Regions from separate parts of the Homo sapiens genome. Here region 1 is linked to region 2. Evidence: fine-mapped expression QTL. A gene starts in region 2. The other region holds a variant in brackets. All regions are shown on one strand. Distances are between the middles of the regions.

The links.
Region 1: its variant is fine-mapped to the expression of SMPDL3B in whole blood (TOPMed, PIP above 0.99).

What each region holds. Positions count from the first base shown.
Region 1 is chr1:27,764,507-27,776,157 of GRCh38, reverse strand. It overlaps STX12 (syntaxin 12), which reads right to left and starts at 2,939. Exons shown (of 9, transcript NM_177424.3): 1 at 2,733-2,939. The coding sequence starts at 2,850. RefSeq lists enhancers at 2,102-2,602, 2,800-2,949, 2,603-3,103, 3,070-3,219 and a silencer at 2,480-2,689. The variant G/A (reference allele first, on the strand shown) is at 5,916.
Region 2 is chr1:27,928,999-27,940,649 of GRCh38, reverse strand. SMPDL3B (sphingomyelin phosphodiesterase acid like 3B) reads right to left here and starts at 5,650. Exons shown (of 8, transcript NM_014474.4): 1 at 5,406-5,650. The coding sequence starts at 5,466. RefSeq lists enhancers at 1-232, 5,115-6,016 and a silencer at 5,523-5,788.

The DNA.
Region 1 (11,651 bases), 160 kb after region 2:
GAGGCCCAATGCCCAATCAATAGCTAAATCTTACCAATTCTATCACCAAGGAAACCTCTCCTATCCTTTCCTTTCTTTTCATTTTCACAGCCCTAACTGGTATCTCTGATTCCAGTCTCTCCCTTTGAATTCAATTCGCACTTTCCTAAATAACTAAATCCAAGCCCCTTAGCTTAGCATTTAACATCCTTCATGTTTGGGCCACAATTTACCTTTCAATCCTTTTTTCCCACTACTTTCTGGAATCCACCACTCTAGCCAAATTAAATTACTCTTCTAGATATACTCTATGCTTCCCCACTATGATGCCTGTTCATTTTATTCCCTCCTGGAATGCTCTTCTCCTCTTTACCTTCGAAGGTCCAAATCTTTCCATCCTCTTTCCAGACATAACTCAAATGCCATAATGCCTTCTCAATTAAAAACAATCTCTCTCTTCCCAGAATACCTGCATGTTATTTATATGTCTTCTATAGCACCAATCCCTTTCAACTTTATATTTTGGTTATGAACTCTGCAGGTTCCCTGTTGAAAGATCCATGCCAGTTCTTATACTTACTACATACTCAAATAAATATATGTTGAAGGCCAGGCATGATGATTCATGCCTGTAATCCTGGCCTATTCGGAGGCCAAGGTGGGTGGATCACTTGAGCACAGGAGTTCAAGACCAGACTGGACAACATGGTGAAACTCCATCTCTACAAAAAATATAAAAATTAGCCGGGCGTGGTGGTGCACACCTGTAGTCCCAGCTACTTGTAGGGCTGAGGCAGGAGGACTGCTTGAGCCAGGGAGGTTGAGGCTGCAGTGAGCTGAGATCATGCCACTGCATACCAGCCTGGGTGACAGAGTGAGACCCTGTCTCAAAATAAAAATTTAAATTTAAATTTAAAACTGTATGTCGGATCTACCTTTGGGAGTATTCTGGTTTTATATATATATAAAATACACACGAAGATGGATAGATGGATACATGTTGAATGAATATTTCGCAAATAGATATTAAAATTAGATTTAGCTTCAACAAGAAAATTTCAGCCTTGAACTAGAATTTTCTGATCTAACCTGTATTACAGCTCCTTCACAAAAGGAAACTGGAACAAACAGTACTATACTTTCTAACCAGTGGTCATATTAATTTTTTTTACTTCTGGATTTTAACAGGCCACATATTCTTCCTTTCACTTCCAGAGTCTCAATCCCTTTTGATCAGAAACTTTCTACTTCTCAAATTCTACAATATACATTTAGATTTAAAAGCAAAGTGAGCCTGGGCAACATAGTGAGACCCCATCCCTACAAAAAATTTAAAAATTAGCCTGGCACGGTAGATGCATCCTTGTAGTCCTTGCTACTCAGCAAGCTGATCAGGAATTCAAGGTTATAGTGAGCTAGGATTGTACCACTTCACTCAGATCACTGCATTCTGCCTGGGTGACAGAAGTAGACTCTGTCTCGAAAAAATAAATTAAAAATATTTTAAATCAAAAAAATTAGGCTAGGCACAGTGGCTCACGCCTGTAATCCCAGCACTTTGGGAGGCTAAAGTGGGAGAAGTGCTTGTGCCCAGGGGTTTGAGACCAGCCTGGCCAACATAGCAAGACTTCATCTCTACAAAAAAGAAAAATTTTTAAAAGTTTAAAAACGAAAGCAAAGTGACACTCTTTAAAATATAGAATATAATTGTAATTCAGGACTAACTAGTTCTACCTATTAACAGAGTACGCCAAGCTCACAAAACAATAATAAACAACAAGGATGATGACCACCATTCTTTCCAAGTAAAGCTGCTGCTGATCTCCTGTTTATAAGGCTCCAAGATGATTTTCAAGCACAAGAAACACCCTGTATTTGACTCATTCAGCTACAGTTTCACTCAGACCCTAATGGGGAGGAGGGAGTTTTAAGACAAGCAATAGCATTCTGAATTCCACCAACAACTCTACCATGCCTTACTTGCTATGTGGTTGTGGCTAAGTGTCTTAGCTTCCCTGTGTACCAGATTTGTTCAAGAGCAGCTAAGTAGGGAAGGAAAACAAAAGCCTCATCTGCCTGAAATCCAAAAATACACCCCAATTATTTGTTACAAAAGACAAAATAATGTAAATTGAAATGCTGTTGGTGAATTCTCTTTATTAAAATGAAGTCATCCCACCTTTCAAATACCAGTCATTGTGTCTGATTTCCGAATTCATTACAGGAAGAACTGTGTATGAAGTCACCCAAACACATGCACTCTCCACTTCCCTTAATTGAAAGTTGCTGATTTCCGAGGAGCCAGGGGCTGAGCAGAATGTAAACCTAAAGGCTAAATCAGTAAACAACCCCATCCAAACTGGTCTAAGAGGAAAGCGAGGTGGGTGGGGAGGAAGGTGGGTGACAGGAGAAACTCGGCTGACCACTGCGCCAAGTCAACGCACTCACAGCTCTCGAGGTGACACACACTCCCCTTCCCACCCTCGGGCTGTCAAGTCGGCTGTTTTGGTCCCAGCACCGTGGGGGCAGAACTCCAGAGAAGCAGCTCAAGCTTCAGCTGGGGCCGGGGACCCTCGGGCAACCCGGGCCTGACAGATTGGGGGATGGCAGCCCACCGCCCCCAGGGTGGACAGCCCGAGACAGCCCCAGGTGTGGCCTCGGCCGTAGCCCCAGCCGGGCCCTGCGTCCCGGCAGCCTCACCCAGGCCTGTCCCCGGGACAGCTCCCGCCCCCCAGCTCGGTACCCCGGCTCACTGGCTTGGCTGATCCGCTGGATGTTGCCGCTGCACGTCTGGATGATGCTGCTGAAGTCCCGGAGCTGGGGCCCCGAGGGCCCCGGGTTCCGGTACATGTCTAAGGGACCGTATGACATGACGAGGAGCTGAGACCTGCTCGCTCTACACCGCTCTCCTACCGGAAGCAGCCGCCAGCCGGGACCCGCAGGCTGACGGAGAAACTGGGAAGAGCAAGGGCGGGGAAGGAGCTAAGGCTGCGTGCGCACTAGCCCCGCCCTCACGCGGCGCGCACGCGTCCTCCCCGCCCCGGTCCAAAGTGCGCAGGCGCCGCTGGGACTGGAGCTGGGACTGGAGCTGGGACTGTAGCTTAGAGACAGGACTCCCCGAGGCTTGGGGATGCAGGGCGGGGAGATGACGTCACCTAGTTGGGGCTGAGATTGGATGAGCTTGGGTGGAGGTGTTGTTTCTCGCCAGGGCACAGTGACAAGAGGCAAGAATTTTCGATTTGCATAAAACTGTACCAGATGATCTCAGCCCTTACATCCTATTCTGTTCTGAGAATTCAGGCCCAAATATGGGAGAATTCAACGTTGAAACTCAGACCCGGAACCAAATCGTAACCCGAAATTCCTCTCTACTTCCATCCCCAGGGCTTTGGTAGTGTTTGGGGTTTCCAAACCACTTTCATTTCTCCCTCCACCCCTCTTCTAATCTAAACAATAAAATAATGTTTATTGAGCACATACTATGTGAATCCTCACCGCAATTCACTTGTTCATAAGATTTTTCACAGCAGGGGACGATGCTCTATCTATATTTTTATCATTAGAATAGATAACGGAGAGTCGGTTTTTTAAATGTTGAAGTAAAGTAATTCATCAAAGTAAGCATTATTATTTTCCCTCTTACCGATGAGAAAATTAAGACCAGCGAGGTTAGTTCGCCTTGCTGAAATTTGACTGCAAAACCCAAACGCTAAGCTGACTCTCTCCTCACCTCGCTACTTCTCTAAAATTCATTCTCGTCTAAATCTCTCCCAAATAGCTCGTTCATCTATATCCCAAGCCGGGATATCTTGGAGAACTAGATTCCTAAAATTTAAAAATCGTTCCCTTAAGTAATTTGGAATGCATGACCTCAATGTTCCCACAGAAAACTGCATTTTTGTAAGCCTATGTTAAAAGGAAAGACATAGGATTTTGGTTTGGGAGGAGATCAAGATAGTGAGAAGTGAAGGGGAACTGGCTGCGTTTCCTGTGTTCTACACCCCACCCCACCCCACCCCAGCCTGCTTTGTAGTCTTTGGAAAATGCAAAGACAGAAAGCTGCTTGCCTGGATGAAAGGAGACCCAAAGTGAATGAGCCTGTATATGGCCTTAGGATTTTTTCTTTATTTTATTTTTTTTGAGACAGGGTCCCGCTCTGTCACGCAGGTTGGAGTGCAGTGGCGCGATCTCTGCTCACTGCATCCTCCTTCTCCTGGGCTCAGGAGGTCCTACCACCTAACCTCTGAGTAGCTAGGATTACAGGCGTGCGCCACCACGCCCAGCTAATTTTTATATTTTTTGTAGTGTTGGGGTTTGGCCATGTTGTCCAGGCTGGTCTCAAACTCCTGGGCTCAAGCAATCCACCCACCAGCCTTAGGATTTTTTAAGGGTGACTATCTCTATTTTTCGTTGGAGAATTTATGAGAGCATTTTTTTTCCCTGTCTCTAGAAAGAGACGGATGACATTTGGGGACTCTTATTTTGGTTATTTTATTTTATTTTATTTTTGAGACAGAATCTTGCTCTGTTGCCCAGGCTGGAGTGCAATGGCGCAATCTCGGCTCAATGCAACCTCCGCCTCCTGGGTTCAAGCGATTCTCCTGCCTCAGCCTCCCGAGTAGCTGGGATTACAGGCGTGTACCACCACGCCCGGGTACTTTTTGTATTTTTAGTAGAGATGGGGTTTGACCATGTTGGCCAGGCTGGTCTCGAACTCCTGACCTCAGGTGATCCACCCGCCTCGGCTTCCCAAAGTGTTGGGATTACAGGCGTGAGCCACCGCACCCAGCCTGTTTTGGTTATTATTATAAAACCTTACCGTTTCTTAGAATCTGTAGTTTTATGTCAAATCTTAAGCAAGTCATGTAAATTGCACTTTTTTACCTATATAATAGTACTGATGATTTTTTTCATTTACATTTGACACTATTTAAAGTGAAGTTCAGTAAAGATATTTTTCTTTTAGGAATTAAAAATATTGTTTTCTTTCTCCATGTAAAATAAAAGTGGTTTTTAGGCTGGGCGCGGTGGCTCACAACTGGAATTCCAGCACTTTGGGAGGCTGAGGCAGGCTGATCATTGCTTGAGCTCAGGAGTTCGAGACCAGCCTGGGCAAAATGGCAAAACCCTATCTCTACCAAAAATACAAAAATTAGCTGGGCATAGTGGCCTGAGCCTGTAGTCCCAGCTACTCGGGAGGCTGAGGCAGGAGTGTAGCTTAAGCCAGGGAGGCAGAGGTTGCAGTGAGCATCTCTCATAGCAGTAAATCTGTGCCTTGCAAATACTGGATGTCAAACAAACATTTATTGAATTAACACATGAATAATAAAAATAATAATTTTATCATTGCTTAAATGCCTGTTAGGTGCCAGGCAGTATGAACACATTTTGTGTACGTTATCAGTAATCTCCAAGATAAAGCCCATCTGATAAAGACCACCTGTAGTCAGACAAAGTTAAGTTTATTAACTTGCTGCTGCAAGGGAAACTGCACACCAAAAGAATCATGGAGCATGTCACAAAACACAGGAAGACAGTGAGTTATTCCAGGATTTGGGGGAAAGAAATGTAGATAAATTTTTAAAGAAGCAGTGTTTTGATAGCCCCCAAACACACCAGGCTATGTGTAAAGGGATTATCATCAGGCCCCAGCTAACAAGATCCTGTTTCCTTGGAAACCATGATGCCAAGATAAATGTGGAATGTTGTGTCTGGAAACCCCTTATCTGAAGCTCTGCACCTGCGTTAGAAATTGAGGCTGCTCTTCTGCATCAAAGTAACTGATCCTCCAGGTAAGAGTGATATATTCCATTCTTACTGATAATTTGAGCAACAAATTTTCTAAAAATCTATGGCTTTAGAGAAAATGTCTCTCAGCTCTACATACTTTTGTTAATTAACGAAAGTAGTCTTCATGGGTTTGCACCCATCAAGGC[G/A]ATATTAGCTCCTTGGTACGGATAAAGAAACTAGAGATTCTGGGTACTTGCCTAATGTCATACAGCTGTTAAGTGACAGAGCCAGGATTCCCATGCACCTTCTGACCCAGCAATTCTACTCCTAACTATATACCCAACTATGCGTGTTCCAAAAATCAGGTATAGTTCATAGGAGCATTTTTAGGACCAAGCAGCATTTTTCTATACTTATTTACTTTTTGTTTTTTTTTTTCGGAGACAGGCTGGAGTGCAGTGGCGTGATCTCGACTCACTGCAGCCTCAATCTCCCTGGCTCAAGCCATCTTCCTACCTCAGGCCTCCAAGTAGCTGGGACTACAGGCACGCACCACCACACCTGGCTAATTTTTGTATTTTTTTGTTGAGATGTGGTCTTGCCATGTTGCCCAGGCTGGTCTCAAACTCCTGGGCTCAAGCAATTCACCCACCTCGGCCTCCCAAAGTGCTGGGATTACAGGAGTGAGCTATGACACCCAGCCCTTACATTTAATTTTTATTGAGTTATAATTGATATACAATCGAATGCACAGATAGTAAGTGTTCAGCTCAATGGATTTTGACACTTGTACACATCCATGTAACTGCCACACCCAAATCAAGAGATAAAACATTTTTATCATCACCCCAGAAAGTTTCCTTGACTTATGCTCCTTTTTAATCCATTTCCCTCATCACTGGAAGTTACTTACTGATTTTTTTTTTTTTTTGAGATGGAGTCTCACTCTGTCGCCCAGGCTGGAGTGCAGTGGCACGATCTTGGCTCACTGCAACCTCCACCTCGTGATTCAAGCAATTCTCCTGCCTCATCCTCCCAAGTAGCTGTGAATATGGGCATGCGCCACCATGTCCAGCTAATTTGTTTTGTATTTTTAGTGGAGACAGGGTTTCACCATGTTAGTCAGGCTGGTCTCGAATGATCCACCCGCCTCGGCCTCTCAAATGATCCGCCTGGCTCAGCCTCTCAAAGTGCTGGGATTACAGGCATGAGCCACACTGCACCTGGACTTTACTTTCTGATTTTTGTCACTACAGATTAGCTTTGTCTGCTCTTGGACTTCATACTTTATATATTCTTTAGTGTTTGGCTTTTTTCAATTAACACAATGTTTTTGAGATTTATCCATGATGTCACATATATCAGTAGTTTGGTCTTTTTTTATTACTCATTAGTATTTCCTCATATAAATATACTTACAGTTTGATTATCCATTCTCTTATTGATGGATGTTTGCATTGTTTCCAATTTGGTGTTATTATGAAGTTCATAGCAGTATTTATTTTTACTAGTTCCAAACTGTAAACAACTCGAATATCCATCAACAGAGGTTTGTATAAACAGATATTATAAAGCACAAAAATAAATGGCCTACTGCTGTGTGAACAACATAGGTGACCTCTTCCCAACAATGCATAGCTAAAGAAGCCAGACACAAATTAGCTAGGCACAGTGGTGCACACCTGTAGTCCTAGCTACCTGAGAGATCAAGGTGAGAGGATCCTTGAGGCCAGGAGGTCAAGGCTGCAGTGAGCTATGATTGCACCACTGCACTCCAGCCTGGGCGACACAGCGAGACCCTGTCTCTTAAAAAAAAAAAAAAAAAAAAAAAAAAAAAGGAGAAGAGGAAGCTAGACATAAAATGAGTACAATCTGTATCATTTCATCTTTATTAAGTTCAAAACTGGCCAAATTAAATCTATGTTATTAAAAGTCAGAATAGGGCCAAGTGCAGTGGCTCATGTCTGCAATCCCAGCACTTTGGGAGGCCAAAAGGATGGATCACTTGAGCTCAGGAGATCAAGACTACCCTGGACAACATGGTGAAACCCTGTCTCTACAAAAAATACAAAAATTAGCTGGGCATGGTGGCACAGGCCTGTAATCCCAGCTACTCGGGAGGCTGAGGTGGGAGGATGGCTTGCACCCGGGAGGCAGAGGTTGCAATAAGCCAAGATCATGAAGTATCACTATTACTATCAGTATGGTGAGCTTCCTGGGGACTGGTAGGGAGGAGTTAATGGGGAAATTCACTTAGGTTGCAAATAATACTGTATTAAAATTAGCACTCATCATATATTGCTGGTGGGGATGCAAAATGGTACAGTCACTTTGGAAAATAGTTTTACAGTCTCGTATACAGTTAAGAATAAATTTACCATACAACCCAGCAATTCAGCAGCTCCACTGCTATATATTTACCCAAGAATAATAAAAACACATTTCTATTAAAAGACCTGTATGCAAATGTTTACGGCAGCTTTATTCGTAATAACCAAAAACTGGAAGCAGCTCAAGTGTCCATCAACTGCTGAAGAGATAAACTGTGGTACATCCATACAGTGGAAAACTATTCAGCTATAAAAAGAAACTACTGAGACATGGAATAAATTACTGAGACATGCAAAAACACGGATGAATCTCAAACACATACGCTAAGTGAAAAAAGTCAGACGTAAAAGGCCATATCCTATATGATTTTATTTATATGACATTCTCTTTTTTTTTTGAGATGGAGTTTCACTCTTGTCGCCCAGGCTGGAGTGCAATGGCATAATCTCGGCTCACGGCAACCTCTGCCTCCCAAGCTCAAGCGATTCTCCTGCCTCAGCCTCCCGAGTAGCTGGGATTACAGGCATGTGCCACCATGCCTGGCTCATTTTGTATTTTTAGTAGAGATGGGGTTTCGCCATGTTGGTCAGGCTGGTCTTCAACTCCTGGCCTCACGTGATCCGCCCACCTTGGCCTCCCAAAGTGCTGGGATTATAGGCGTGAGCCACCGCACCTGGCTACATGACATTCTTGAAAAGGCAAAGCTATAGGAATATAAATCAGATTAGTGGTTGCATAAAGGCTGGTGTGGAGGGAAGGGCACCAAAGGACTCAAGGGAACTTTTGGGGTTGATGAATATGTTCCATGTCTTGATTATGGTGGTGATTACACAGCTGCATATACTTGTCAAAACTCATTGTGCACTGAGGGTTATTTTTGTGTATGCCAATTTTATACACACACACAGAGACACACATACTTAAATGACACTCTAGAAATCAACGCAATAAAGTGGCATATATGAGGTGGGTAATGTGGAGTTGAAAAAGAGGTATAAAAGTTGTGGGTTGCAATAATGGTCTGACGGCCTAGAAGTGACATAGGACTAAAGTGACTTCGGAAGCAAAAAAACAAGTAAACATACATGTTCATTCTAATTTATGCCTCTATCACCTTCCTTCTTAGGAAACATAAAATGTTGATTCTGTAGAAGTCATAGATGATAATAGCTTACAAAATTGAGTGCATACTATGTACCAAGCACTGTTCTAAAGACTTCTACATGTAGCTGGGCATAGTGGCTTGAGCCTGTAGTCCCAGCTTCTCGAGAAGCTGAGGTAGGAAGATTGCTTGAGTCTAAGAGTTCGAGGCTGCAGTGAACTGTGATCACGCCACTGCTCTCTAGTTTGAGCAACAGGGTGAGATCTGAGTCTTTTTTTTTTTTTTTTTTTGAGACAGAGTCTCCCTCTGTCACCAGGCTGGAGTGCAGTGGTGCGATCTGGGCTCACTGCAACCTCCGACTCTCTGGTTCAAGCGATTCTCCTGCCTCAGGTTCCTGAGTAGCTGGGATCACAGGCACATGCCACCACGTCCAGCTAATTTTTGTATTTTTAGTAGAGATGGGGTTTCACCATGTTGGCCAGGATGGTCTCAATCTCCTGACCTCGTGATCCGCCTGCCTCAGCCTCCTAAAGTGCTGGGATTACAGGCGTGAAACGCCGTGCCTGGCTGAGATCTGATTCTGAAAAAAAAAAAAAAAAAAAAGACTTCTATATGTGTTATTTAATCCTCACAACAACTCTAAGGTAAGTAGAGACAGGAAGTCTCTACTTCAGGCAGCCTGACATCATAGCACCACACAGTCTCACTTTTCAAATAGGGTTGATAATTTGCTGGAAGTACAGCCTGGCAAGCCCTGGTAGTTGGAGAAGTCATGGATTCCAGTAATAGCTAAGAAGTATGAACTACTTTCCCCCAAAAGGTAATTTTTATTGCTATCTTCAAAATCCAGAGGTTCACACAGTCGTTACTTGATCCTATTGGCCAAAAGTCAATGTGGTAGCTAGCCTCCAAGGTGGACCCTCAATATCATCTTCTGGTATTAATGCACCTGGACAGTCTCTTCCCACATTGAAGTGTCAGTAACTTGACCCCTGTAACCAATAGGATATTGCAGAAATGATGGAGTGTGATGTCTGAAGGTAGGACATAAAGGACATTACAGCTTGCTCTCTCCGATCTGGTTTAGTTCCAAAACCCATTCCCTCTGTGGCAGGTTGTATTTTATAAGATGGTCAGCACAATAGCCTCCACCTCATATGCTCTTCTACTTTGTTGTCCTCTGTCCAGTGAAACGGCTGTATATGCAAAGTGAACTCCAAATGCCGAAGGAGCTGAGGAGCCAAAGGAGGAGGCAGACAAATCCAATTTGTCAGTATTGGTTGATTGACTGAGGGAACTTACACACAGAAGCATAGTCTTGGGCAGCCACAAGACAGGTAGATTTCTGTGCTGTTACTCCCCAGACCCAAAGCTTATATACCATAGTGAATAGGTATACATGTTCTAGGAAGCCAGTTAATTAAAGGCAATCCTCCAGGACAGGCAAAAGTGCCATGTGCATCATAGACTATAATTTGTGCAATTAACATCAAGGCTGACATGTTCTTACACCAGGGACAGTAAATAAAATAGCAACCAGCTAATTTTTGTATTTTTAGTAGAGATGGGGTTTCGCCGTGTTGGCCAGGCTGGTCTTGAACTCCTGACCTCGTGATCTGCCCACCTCGGCCTCCCAAAGTACTGGGATTACAGGCATGAGCCACCGCTCCTGGCCTGTTTATACTATTTTCTTACCCTACAGTGGTTTTAAAGGCTGAGTAAATGAGTCAATTAAGATAATTCACACAATAATTGTAGTCATAAATATAGCCTACAAAATAGGCGGGGCACGGTGGCTCACGCCTGTAATCCCAGTACTTTGGGAGGCCGAGGTAGGTGGATTGCTTGAGGCCAGGAGTTCGAGACCAGCCTGGCCAACATGGTGAAACCCTGTCTCTACTAAAAATAGAAAAATTAGCCAGCTGTGGTGGCGGGTGCCTGTAGTCCCAGCTACTCGAGAAGCTAAGGCAGGAGAATCACTTGAATCTGGGAGGCGGAAGTTGCAGTGAGCTGAGATTGCACCACTGCCCTCCAGCCTGGGTGACAGAGCGAGACTCCATCTCAAAAAACCAAAAAAACAAAAAACAAAAAAACAAAAACAGGCCTGGCACAGTGGCTCATGGCTGAAATCCTAGCACTTTGGGAGGCCAAGGCAGGTGGATCACCTGAGGTCAGAAGTTCAAGACCAGCCTGGCCAACATGGCATAACCCTGTCTCTACTAAAAATACAAAAATTAGCTGAGCATGGCGGCGCATGCCTATAATCCCAGCTACTCAGGAGGGTGAGGCACGATAATCCCTTGAACCCAGCAGGCAGAGGTTGCAGTGAGCCGAGATCGCACCACTGCACTTGAGCCTGGGTGACAGAGTGAGAGTCTGTCTCAAAAAAAAAAAAAAAAAAAACAAAGAAAAAAAACAAAACAAAAACAACCATAGCCTACAAAATAAAAGTATCTTCAACTTATTCTGAGAAAATTAGCTTTGAGTTTATAGAATGACCAGGATGTAA
Region 2 (11,651 bases):
TGAGAAGATAAATAAATTTGGTATTGAGTACAGTGAGTAGCTGAGGCCACAGACCTGGGAGGGAGTCCTACTGCACCACCCCATAGCTGTGTGAACAGCGGAACCTTCCCCTGGGCCCGTTTCCTCCTCTGTAAAATCAAGATAACAGCGCCCCCTACCCCTTGGGGCCCTCGTGAGAATTAAAATGAGAAATGTGAGATGATTTCATAAATGGGAAGCAGTGGTTACTCCACATTTGGTTCCTGGGGGGTTCTACAAGGCCCCCTCTCACCATGAGAGACAGGACAAGGTGGGGAGTGGCCACGTTCTACCCAGCCAGCCCCAGCGTGTCCTTGGCTACTGTCCACAGGTAAAGTGCAGGGGCAGGGCAGGCAGGACATCTGAAGGGAAACAAGATGAAGATAGAGCCTGTCTGCCCCAGATGACCATCTCTAAGAGGAGGACTGGTGGGCACAGCGCGTCCCTGGGCAGGCAAAAAGTGTCCTGGCCCGCCTCCTCCTTCACCAAAGGGGATCACCAGGCCTTTATGCTCACTAGGGACAACAGACATAGGGCCCAAGGCCTCATAGCTCTGCAAGGCCCACAGAAATATCTGAGACTTGGAAAAAAATGCATTGACTCTAAAAGTGCAGGAAAGACAAAAATTACAAATATCAAGTAAGTCATCAAAATCAACAATTCATTTCAAAAGCAATATTAAAAATCTCATGGGCCACATGCATTGGCTCACACCGGTAATCCCAGTGCTTTGGGAGGCCAAAGTGGGAGGATCACTTGAGGCCAGGAGTTCAAAACCGTGCCTCTACAAAAACAAACAAACAAACAAACAAACAAAAACAAACAAACAAAAACCCAGGCTGGAGTGCAGCAGTGTGATCCTGGGTCACTGCAGCCTCAACCTCCTGGGCTCAACTGATTCTCCCACCTTAGTCCCCCAAGTAGCTGGGACTACAGGCACGTGCCACCAGGCCTGGCAAATTTTCTTGTACTTTTTTGTAGAGGTGGGGTTTGCCATGTTGCCCAGTCTGGTCTCAAATTCCTGAGCTCAAGTGATCTGCCTGCCTCGGCCTCCCAAAGTGCTAGGATTACAGGTATGAGCCACCACACTAGGAATGCAGGTATATGCCACCACACTCAGCTACTTTTTAAAAAGAAATTTAATTTCTCCGTACTTGGGAGGCTGAGGCAGGAGGATCCCTAAAGTCCAGGAGTTTGAGGTTACCTTGAGCTATGATTGCAGCACCGCACTCCAGCCTGAGCAACAGATAGAGACCCTGTCTCCAAAAAAGAAAAATAAGATAAAAAAATTAAAATCATACATGATATGGGATCTTTTTAGTATGATTTGTGATAGGGGTGGGGAGAACTCCCATAGTCATAGTCATTTATAAAACCTAAGTTCTTAAAATGGCTAGAAGGTGAGTTCCCTTATGGTTGGAGACAGGGGGGCAGGAAGGCATCTGCCATTCATTTAGCACCTACTGAATGCCAGACACTGTGCCACACACTCTATCCATGCAGCCTCATGACAACATTATGAAATGCATCCTAAGATGTACTCATTTTACAGATGAGGAAACTGAGCGAGTGAGCGGCAGACCGGGGATGCCGAGCACGTCAGAATGGAAATGATCACAGTGCACTATATTCTGCCACCACCTACCAGCATGGCCTTGGAGATATATACAGGTTTTCCTTGACTTACAATGGGGCTACGTCCCCCAAAATTGAAAATATCATAAGTCAAAAATGCATTCAACACACCCAACCTACCAAAGGGCATCGTAGCTTAGCCCAGTCTACCTTAAAGGAGCTCAGAACACTTACATTAGCCTACAGTTGGGCAAAATCATCTGATGCAGACCTATTTTATAATTAAGTGTTGAATGTCTCTTGCAATGTATTAAATACTGAATTGAAAGTGAAACACAGAGTGGTTGTATGGCTTCTCGAAGTGTGGTTTCTAATGAATGCCTAAGGCTTTCGCCCCATCATACAGCTTAGTGGAATCTTCGTAAGTCAGGGACCATCTGTGTGTATGCCTCCTTAAACTTTTACAACATTTTACAATGTACCTGGCATGATCTCACTTAAGGCCATCACATTTAATCTCTCCTCTGCTAACATCCCTATTTTATAAACAGTAAAATAAAGGTTGCAGGTCACACAGGTATTCAAAGGCAGGACCACAGGTAGGACCTAAGTTTTCTGGCTTCAGGCAGTAAGTTATTTCTGCAAGGACATGCATGAAACCTGCAATCAGGGACATCTTATTTTGAATCCTGGCTCTTCCATACAGGCAGTGGCAACTTAAGCAAGGGATTTTCAGAGCTGAGCCTTAGTTTCCTCATCTATAAAATGAGGATTAGAATGCACCCAGCAGAGGGATGCTTGTGATGCAGAGCAGGTGAGCCCCAAAGTGGAGCTTAGCCCATGAGGGTTCTTGGCTTTGCCCAGGAAAAAATTCAAGGGCAAGCTTGAGGTTGAAGCAAACAGCTTTGGTGAACAGGTGATGTACAGCTCCATGACTGCTCCTGCAGAGCAGGGCTACCCCAGAGGCAGAGAGTAGCAGCTCAGGGCAGTTTTGCAGTCACATTTATACCCACTTTTAATTGCCTGGAGATTAAGGGGCATTTATGCAGAAATTTCTAGGGAAGGGGTAGTAACTTTTAAATCATTGGGTTACTGCCATAGAAGGGGCAGTAACTCCTGGGTGTTGCCATTGCAAAGGTAAATTGACATGCCACACTGCTGGGTGTGTTTGAAAACTGCTTTTGCCCAGGCCGTATTTTAGCTAGTCCTCAATCTGGTCTGGTGTCAAAGCCCTGCCTCTGGAGTCCAGTCCCACCTCCTGCCTCAGTTGTGCAGGTAAAAGAGTTCTCTTATACAGAGCACCTGGCTGTGGGGTGAGCAAGGCAGCCTTAGGACTCATTCCCTGGGCCACACTGCCCCTCAGCCTCCGTTTCCTCAAGTATAAGATGAAAGTACTGAACAGAGGTTCCCTGAAGGCCCTCCTAGTCTGACTCCTGTGATTCAGTGGCTTTTGTCTGTTATTGCCTATAACCCACACCACACAATGGTCTCAGTCTCTATTTCAGTCCTTTGCTATTAAGGCTAGCATTAGCCCCAAAACACAATTGTAATTCATCCTTTGTAAATGGAGGCCCTCCAAAACCCATGGAGTTCATTTGTTAAAACCTACATTTACGGACCACCTACAGTGAATACCCTCTGTTCACAATAGCTCCAGAGGTAGGTGTTACCATTCCTGCCCTGGTCCTGCTCCCTCAGCCCTGGGCTGGCCTTCCAGGGAGTGTTTTCCTACCAAGCTAACCCACAGGGGAAGAACCTGTCTGCTTCTCTGCAGTTAGAAGCTGAGGAAGGAGCGAAATGTTACACAGGACATGTGTAGGAGGAGAAGGAGCCAGCAAGTTGGCATCCACCCAAGCTCCTGGCTAAGGAAAGTGGAGGCAGAAATCCCACAGTTTAATGCAAAGCAGGGATGATGCTGTCTGATCCCCTGTCTCAGAATCCACCTGTGCTTCAGGAAGACACCTGGAGTTGGAAAAACCTTACAGGTGCTGCGGAATTCCTTTTTTTGTTGTTGTTTGTTTGTTTGTTTGTTTTTTGAGACGGAGCCTCACTCTGTCGCCCAGGCTGGAGTGCAGTGGTGCAATCTCGGCTCACTGCAAGCTCCACCTCCCGGGTTTACCCCATTCTCCTGCTTCAGCCTCCCAAGTAGCTGGGACGACAGGTGCTCATCACCACGCCTGGCTAATTTTTTGTACTTTTAGTAGAGTATTTTTAGTTTCACCGTATTAGCCAGGATTGTCTCAATCTCCTGACCTCGTGATCCGCCCGCCTCGGCCTCCCAAAGTGCTGGGATTACAGGCGTGAGCCACCGCATCCGGCCCGGAATTCCTTTTAAATTTACTTTAAAAGGAATACATTCCAGCAAGTTTGGAGAAAAGAGAAAAAAATAGTACCTCTAAACCCCACCATCCCAAGAGGACATGAAGCATAGTACAGCCAGGCACAGGCTTTGTCCTGCCATTTCCCAGCTGGGAGATCTTCAGCAAGTGCAATGTCCCCTCTGAGACTCATTTGCCTCATCTGCAAAATGGGTATAATGATATTAGCACCTACTTCAGAGGGGCTATAAAGAGAATTTTTTTCTTTCATTTTCTTTTTTTTTTTTGAGATGGTCTCATTCCCGTCACCCAGGCTGGGGTGCAGTGGCACAATCACAGCTCACTGCAGCCTCAACCTCCCAGGCTCAGGTAATTCTCCCAGCTGAGTCTCCCAAGTAGCTGGCACTACAGGCACCCACTACCACACCCAGCTAATTTTTGGTATTTTTAGTAGAGTCAGGGTTTTGCTATGTTGCCCAGGCTGGTCTCAAACTCCTGGACTCAAGCAATCCACCCTCCTCAGCCTCCCAAAGTGCTGGGATTACAGATGTTAGCCACTGCGTCTGGCCTCAAGGGTCCTTTTAAACATACAGAAGTCAGAATAGATTACACCTGTGCCTAGAACCCTCCAATGACATCCCATTTCACCCTGAGCAAAAGCCTGCGTCCTTCCTATCTACAGGCACGTGGAAAGAAAAATGTCTGAGTCCTCAAGAGAGTCTTCGAGGCTATCCATGATTTGGCACCTGCCCCACCCCACCATCTGCCAACCTCACCCCCACTTGTCCTGCCCACCCTGCTTCAGCCACGCGGGCTTCCTTGCTGTTCCTCATGCACATCTCCTGTGTGTCCACCTCAGACCCCGTGCACTGTCCTCTCTTCCTGTAATGTTCTGGACACCCATGTGGCTCCCCCACTCACTGCCTCAAGGCTCCACTTGAGTGTCACCTGATTTGACAGCTCTTCTCTGGACGTCTTGTAAGTACCCCCTCCCCACAACCCGCCTTCCCTGTTCTACTTTATTTTCCCCATAACACTTATCATCTCCTCCAATGCTGCGTACTTTACTTGTTCGTGTGGTTTGTTTTTTTCTCCCCAGATGAAGGAATTCTTCATTGAGACGGGGACTTTCTTTTCTTCTCTGATATATCCCTGGCTCCTAGAATAACGTATGGTACAGGAAAGGACCTCATTTGTTGAATGAGTCCACGAATCTTTCCTGCCACCTCCTACCTCTACTAATTAGCTAGCTCTCACGTACCCAGACCTCTTCGCAATGTCGGTGTCCCTCCCTGGCCAGCTGGCGCCTCCACTTAAAATCTTCAGCCTCAAACAGCACTTGCTAAGGCCCACTAGCTCTCCCCACCTGCCTCCCTGCCTAGCTCCTGCCTTGCTATCTTTAGAAGCACCTTCAAGCTGGCTGCGAGCAGCTTCCCGCAGCCCCAGAGTTCACAGTACAAAACAAAGGCATAGCAGACATTCCCAGTGCTGTACCTGGTTCAGCCCTGGCACCTCCCCAGTTAGCCAGGAAAATCAGCCAGGCGAGCAGCCTCATCCTCGGGGCTCACTTCCCCAGAGCCGTGGGATTCTCAGGCACTGTTGTTGTTCTCACCACAGGCTTCCTAAGTAGTTTTCTGTGGCCACGTGCCTGAGCAGAACTCCTTGTCCTGTTACAGGTGTTCCAAGTCCTCCAAGGCGTCTGGATCCTCTGGCTCTTCCTCCTTTGCCCAGCAGGGTATGATCTGGGCTGGCCCGAGGAGGCAGGCATACCGGACCCTTAAGTGGAAGCCACACCTCTCCTGCCAGTGCAGCCCCTGCCCCCAAGAGGGAGGGGCAAACAACAGAATTGCCGGTCAGCACATCAGGTGTATTGGCAAGCCCCGGAAAGGGGGATCTAATTCAGACTGAGGAATGTGAGAGGGCTTCTAGGAGGGGGTGACACGTTTAATCCTTTCTTAACATTGTATTATGGAAACAGTCAAACAGAAACAGGAGAGAGAATGGTGTAATGAACCCCCAAGTACCTTCCTCCAGCTTCAGTAATTATGAACTTATGGCCACTCTTATTTCATCTATACTCACTTTTGATTATTTTATGTATTTAAACAACTTTTTTTTTTTTTTGAGACGGAGTCTCATTCTGTCACCCAGGCTGTAGTGCAGTGGCACCATCTCAGCTCACTGCAAGCTCTGCCTCCCGGATTCACACCATTCTCCTGCCTCAGCCTCCCGAGTAGCTGGGACTACAGGCGCCCGCCACCACGCCCGGCTATTTTTTTGTATTTTTAGTAGAGACGGGGTTTCACTGTGTTAGCCAGGATGGTCTCGATCTCCTGACCTTGTGATCCACCCGTCTCGGCCTCCCAAAGTGCTGGGATTACAGGCATGAGCCACCGCGCCCGGCCCTATTTAAACAACTTTTAAAATTTTTTATTATTTTAACTTTTATTTATTTATGTATTTTTTTAGAGAAGTGTCTCAGGCTGGGTGCAGTGGCTCATGTCTGTAATCCCAGCACTTTGGTAGGCTAAGGCAGGAGGATCGCTTGAGCCCAGGAGTTTGAGGCCATCCTGAGCAACATAGTGAAACACCATCTCTACAAAAAATAAAAAAATTAGCTGGGCATGGTAATACATGTCTATAGTCCAGCTACTTGGGAGGCTGAGGCAGGAGGATCCCTTGAGCCTGGGAGGTAGAAGTTGCAGTAAGCCAAGATTGCATCATTGCATTCCAGCCTGGGTGATAGAGCAAGACTCTGTCTCAAAAAAAAAAAAAAAAAAAAAAAAGAAGGGGGTTGTCTCACTCTGCCACCCAGGCTAGAGTGCAGTGGCAAGATAATAATAGCTCACTGCAGCCTCGAGCTCCTGGACTCAAGCTATCTTCCTATCTTCCTGCTTCAACCTCTGGAATAGCTGGAACTATAGGCACTCGCTACCTCACCTGGCTTTTTTTTTTTTTTTTTTTAGAAACAGCATCTCACTACATTACTCAGGCTGGTCCCAAACTCCTGGCTTCAAGTGATCCTCCCACCTCAGCCTCCCAAAGCACTGGGCTGACAGGTGTGAGCTATCATACCTGGCCCTCACTGTATGATGTTAAATTCCAGTGATCATATCATCTTGAACGTAAACAGTATTTATCTCTAAAAGGTAAGGATTCTCTTTTTCTTTCTTTCTTTTTTTTTTTTTTTTTGAGATGGAGTTTCACTCTTGTTGCCCAGGCTGGAGTGCAATGGCAGGATCTCGGCTCACCGCAAAATCGGCCTCCCGGGTTCAAGTGATTATCCTGTCTCTGCCTCCCGAGTAGCTGGTATTACAGGCATGCGCCACCACACCTGGCTAATTTTGTATTTTTAGTAGAGATGGGGTTTCTCCATATTGGTCAGGCTGGTCTCAAACTCCCAACCTCAGGTGATCTGCCCAACTTGGCCTCCCAAAGTGCTGGGATTACAGGCGTGAGCCACTGCACCCGGCTAGGACTCTCTTTTTCTAACACATTATCAGATCTAAAAAAAAAAATAGTAATTCCACCAGGCGTGGTGGCTCACACCTGTAATCCCAGCTACTTGGGAGGCTGAGGCAGGAGAATCACTTGAACCCGGGAGGCGGAGCTTGCAGTGAGCCGAGATAGTGCCACTGCACTCTAGCCTGGGCGACAGAGCGAGACTCCACCTCAAAAAAAAAAAGAAAGAAAAAGAAAAACAGTAATTCCTTACTTCCACCAGGCAGATATGTGGTCAGTTTCCCTGATGTCACCAAATTTCCCTGATGTCTCTTTTTTTTTTTTTTTTTTTTTACAGCGGGTTCTTTCAAATCAGGGTCCAAACAAGGTCCACACATTGCATTTGGTAGATGTGTCTCTTAAGTCTCCCTTAATTTGTAGCTCTCCTGCCCTCTCCCCATTTTTTCCTTGTTCTTTGTCCTGTGAATTTCCCACATTCTGGAGGATTTGGCTGATTCCTTTCTGGTGGTGTCATTTAACATATTCCTCTGTCCCCCATATTTCCTGTAAACTGATAGTTACAGCCAAGGGTTTGATGACATTCAGGTTTGACTTTTGGGGAAGAAGACTTCTCAGGTGGTCTTGGGTCTTTCCTGTTGTTTTGCATGGCAAAGCACGTAAGATATGGTTGTCCCACCAGCTTAACCTTAATTTACAAGTAGGAGTTAGCAGGAAAAGGAGAAAGCTGGGGAGGAGGGTATCCCAGGCAGAAGGAGCTGAATCATCCCAGAGAGCTGAGTTGGGTGATATTGGGCTTGGGGTGCTAAGCCTGGGGAAGCAGGCAGGAGCCAGGTTGTGCTCAGCTGTTTGAGCTGAGAGCTGTGGGGAGCTATGGCAGAGACACAACCTAATTTGCATTTTAGAAAGATGCACTGGCTCTGTGGAAGATGGATTTTTGGGGAAACCAGCAAGCAAGGAGGCTAAGGCAGGGAAGTTGTCATAGTCCTTTCTGTGCTGTTATAACAGAATACCTGAGACTGAGTATTTAATAAAGAGCAGAAGTGTATTGGCTCACAGTTCTGCAGGCTGGAAAGTGTAAGATCAAGGCACCAGCAGGCTGGGTGTCTGGTAAGGCCATTCGCTTCTTCCAAGATGATGCCTTGCATGCTGCATCCTCTGGAGAGGAGAAAGGCTGAGTCCTCACATGGCATGTCTTGGCAAAGGGCCAAGACAAAAGAAGACCAAACTTGCCCTTTTGTAACAGCATTACTCCCACTCATGAGAGTGGAGCCCTGATGGCCCAATCACCTTCTAAAGGTCCAACCTCCCAATACCTCCATAATGGTAACCAATTATAACACCAGCTTTAGAGCGAACAAGCATTTAAACCATAGCAGAAGTCTTGGTGAAAAGCTGTAAGGGGCTACGCTTAGGAACTGGTAACTAGTAGTAGGGAGGAACTGAAGAGGCTGTGGCTGGGTAATTGGTTGAGTAGTTCCTGTTCTAACTGTATTTTTTTTTTTTTTTTTTTTGAGACGGAGTCTGGCTCTGTCCCCCAGGCTGGAGTGCAGTGGTGCCATCTCGGCTCACTGCAAGCTCCGCCTCCCGGGTTCACGCCATTCTCCTGCCTCAGCCTCCCGAGTAGCTGGGACTACAGGTGCCCGCCACCAAGCCCGGCTAATTTTTTTGTATTTTTAGTAGAGACAGGGTTTCACCATGTTGGCCAGGATGGTCTCGAACTCCTGACCCCATGATCCGCCCGCCTCGGCCTCCCAAAGTACTAGGATTACAGGCTTGAGCCACCACGCCTGGCCTCTAACTGTATTTTTAAACCCCATTCTAAGTAGGTAGCAAAGATCCCTTCCCTTGGAGGAGGATGTGGCAGAGTAGAAAGCCACAGCTTCTTGGAGACAGCTACCTCCAGGGTGTGTCCTCTGACCTCCTAGAGGGGGTAGTGAAAGGAGGGAGGGAACAGTCATAAGAGAGGGGAGACTGGCATAGCCAGGGCAGCAAACAGACGTTGCTGGATCTTAAGAGTTCAGGTTGCCCCTGGAAGGTAGCAGATTCTCAGACAGGAAGTCCTTGGACATTTACTTGGGTTCAATAAATATTGGATGTCTAGAAAGTGGTGAACAGGCTGGGCGCGGTGGCTCACACCTGTAATCCCAGCACTTTGGGAGGCCGAGGCAGGCAGATCACCTGAGGTCAGGAGTTCAAGACCAGCCTGGCCAACATGGTGAAACCCCATCTCTACTAAAATTACAAAAATTATCTGGATGTGGTGGCAGATGCCTGTAATCCCAGCTACTCGGGAGGCTGAGGCAGGAGACTTGCTTGAGCCCGGGAGGTGGAGGTTGCAGTTAGCTGAGACCACGCTATTGCACTCCAGCCTGGGCAACAAGAGCAAACTCCGTCTGAAAAAGAAAAGAAAAAAAAGACAGTGGTGAACAATGCAACAATGCAAAGCCTCTGCCTTCACAGGGCTTACATTCAGCTGAAAACATGGGCATTGCACAAATGAATCAACCACAAGGCTCCTGGCCTAGCTAAGTCCCTGGGGTCAGAGGTGCAGCAGAATTTCCAGCCCCTAGGAACTGTGTAGCCTTAGCCGATGAGTATATTATGTCCACAAACAACTACAGACTAAAGCCCCATTTCTGTTTAGGGCCTAGGTCACCCCAAGGAAATGAGGGGCATCAAAATAATCACTGAGACTGAATCTTCTGCCAGTCCCGAGGGAAGAAAGCTCAGAGACCCACTGCTATTGATTTAATGAAAATAAAGCCGTGTGACTTTTCTTGCCCCTGAGCCTGTGGCCTGATTTATAATCTAGGGCATGTCGAGGTATGCGTGGAAGGTAACCTATGGGACTGGTGGGGAAGGAGGGCAGGCAAGGAGTCTAGGGCAGCCAGTGCTCCCAGGGCTGAGCAGGCAGTTGGCAATGGTTACACCTGAAATTGGAACAAGGGAGAGAGTTCTGGGAGGGCACAGGAGCTCCTCATAAGCCCATCTGAGGGGTGCTGGAGTCTTACTCAGCTTTTGACTGCATGCAGGGCTTCTTTTCTTTTTTTTTTTTTCTGAGACAGGGTCTTGCTCTGTCACCCAGGCTGGAGTGCAGTGGCACTATCATGGCTCATTGCAGCCCTGAACTCCCAGGCTTAAGCAATCCTCTCACCTCAGCCTCTCAGGTATCTGGGACTACAAGCGCACACCACCACGCCTGGCTAATTTTTGTATATTTAGCAAAAAGGGGGTTTGGCTGGGTTACCCAGGTGGGTCTCAAACTTTTGGGCTCAAGGGATCCGCCCACCTCACCCTCCCAAAGTGCTGGCATTACAGGCATCAGTCACCACACCAGGCCTGCAAGGGCTTCTTTTAAATACCTCAGCTTTTTGGTCAGTGTCCCCTGAAGACGCCATCATCACCACCACCAGTAACCAATAAGATATCTTTGTGAATGTAGAAAAGGGGACTCCTCTAGGCCTTTGTGTGAATTAGAAAAAGATGCCTCCAGCCGAGCACAGTGGTTCACACCTATAATCACAGCACTTTGGGAGGCCAAGATGGGAGGATTGCTTGAACCCAGGAGTTCAAGACCAGCCTAGGCAACACAACAAGAGCCCATCTCATTAAATAAATAAATAAATAAATAGGCTGGGCATGGTGACCTCACACCTGTAATCCTAGCGCTTTGGGAGGCCGAGGCAGGCGGATCATGAGGTCAGGAGATCGAGACCATTCTGACCAACATGGTGAAACCCCATCTCTACTAAAATTACAAAAATTAGCTGGGCATGGTGGCGGGTGGCTGTAATCCGAGCTACTCTGGAGACTGAGTCAGGAGAATCGCTTGAACCAAGAAGTTGGAGGTTGCAGTGAGCTGAGATCGTGTCACTGCACTTCAGCCTGGCAACAGAATGAGACTCCGAAAAAAAAAATTAATTAATTAAAAAATTTATTTTTTTTAATTTTAATTTTTTTTTTTGAGATGGAGTCTTGCTCTGTGGCCCAGGCTGGAGTGCAGTGGTGCGATCTCTGCTCACTGCAAGCTCCACCTCCCGGGTTCACACCATTCTCCTGCCTCAGCCTCCCGAATAACTGGGACTACAGGCACCCGCGACACGCCGGGCTAATTTTTTGTATTTTTAGTAGAGACAGGGTTTCACTGTGTTAGCCAGGATGGTCTCGATTTCCTGACCTTGTGATCCACCCGCCTCAGCCTCCCAAAGTGCTGGGATTACAGGCATGAGCCACCGCACCCGGGCAAAATATATATATATATATTAAAAAAAAAAAATA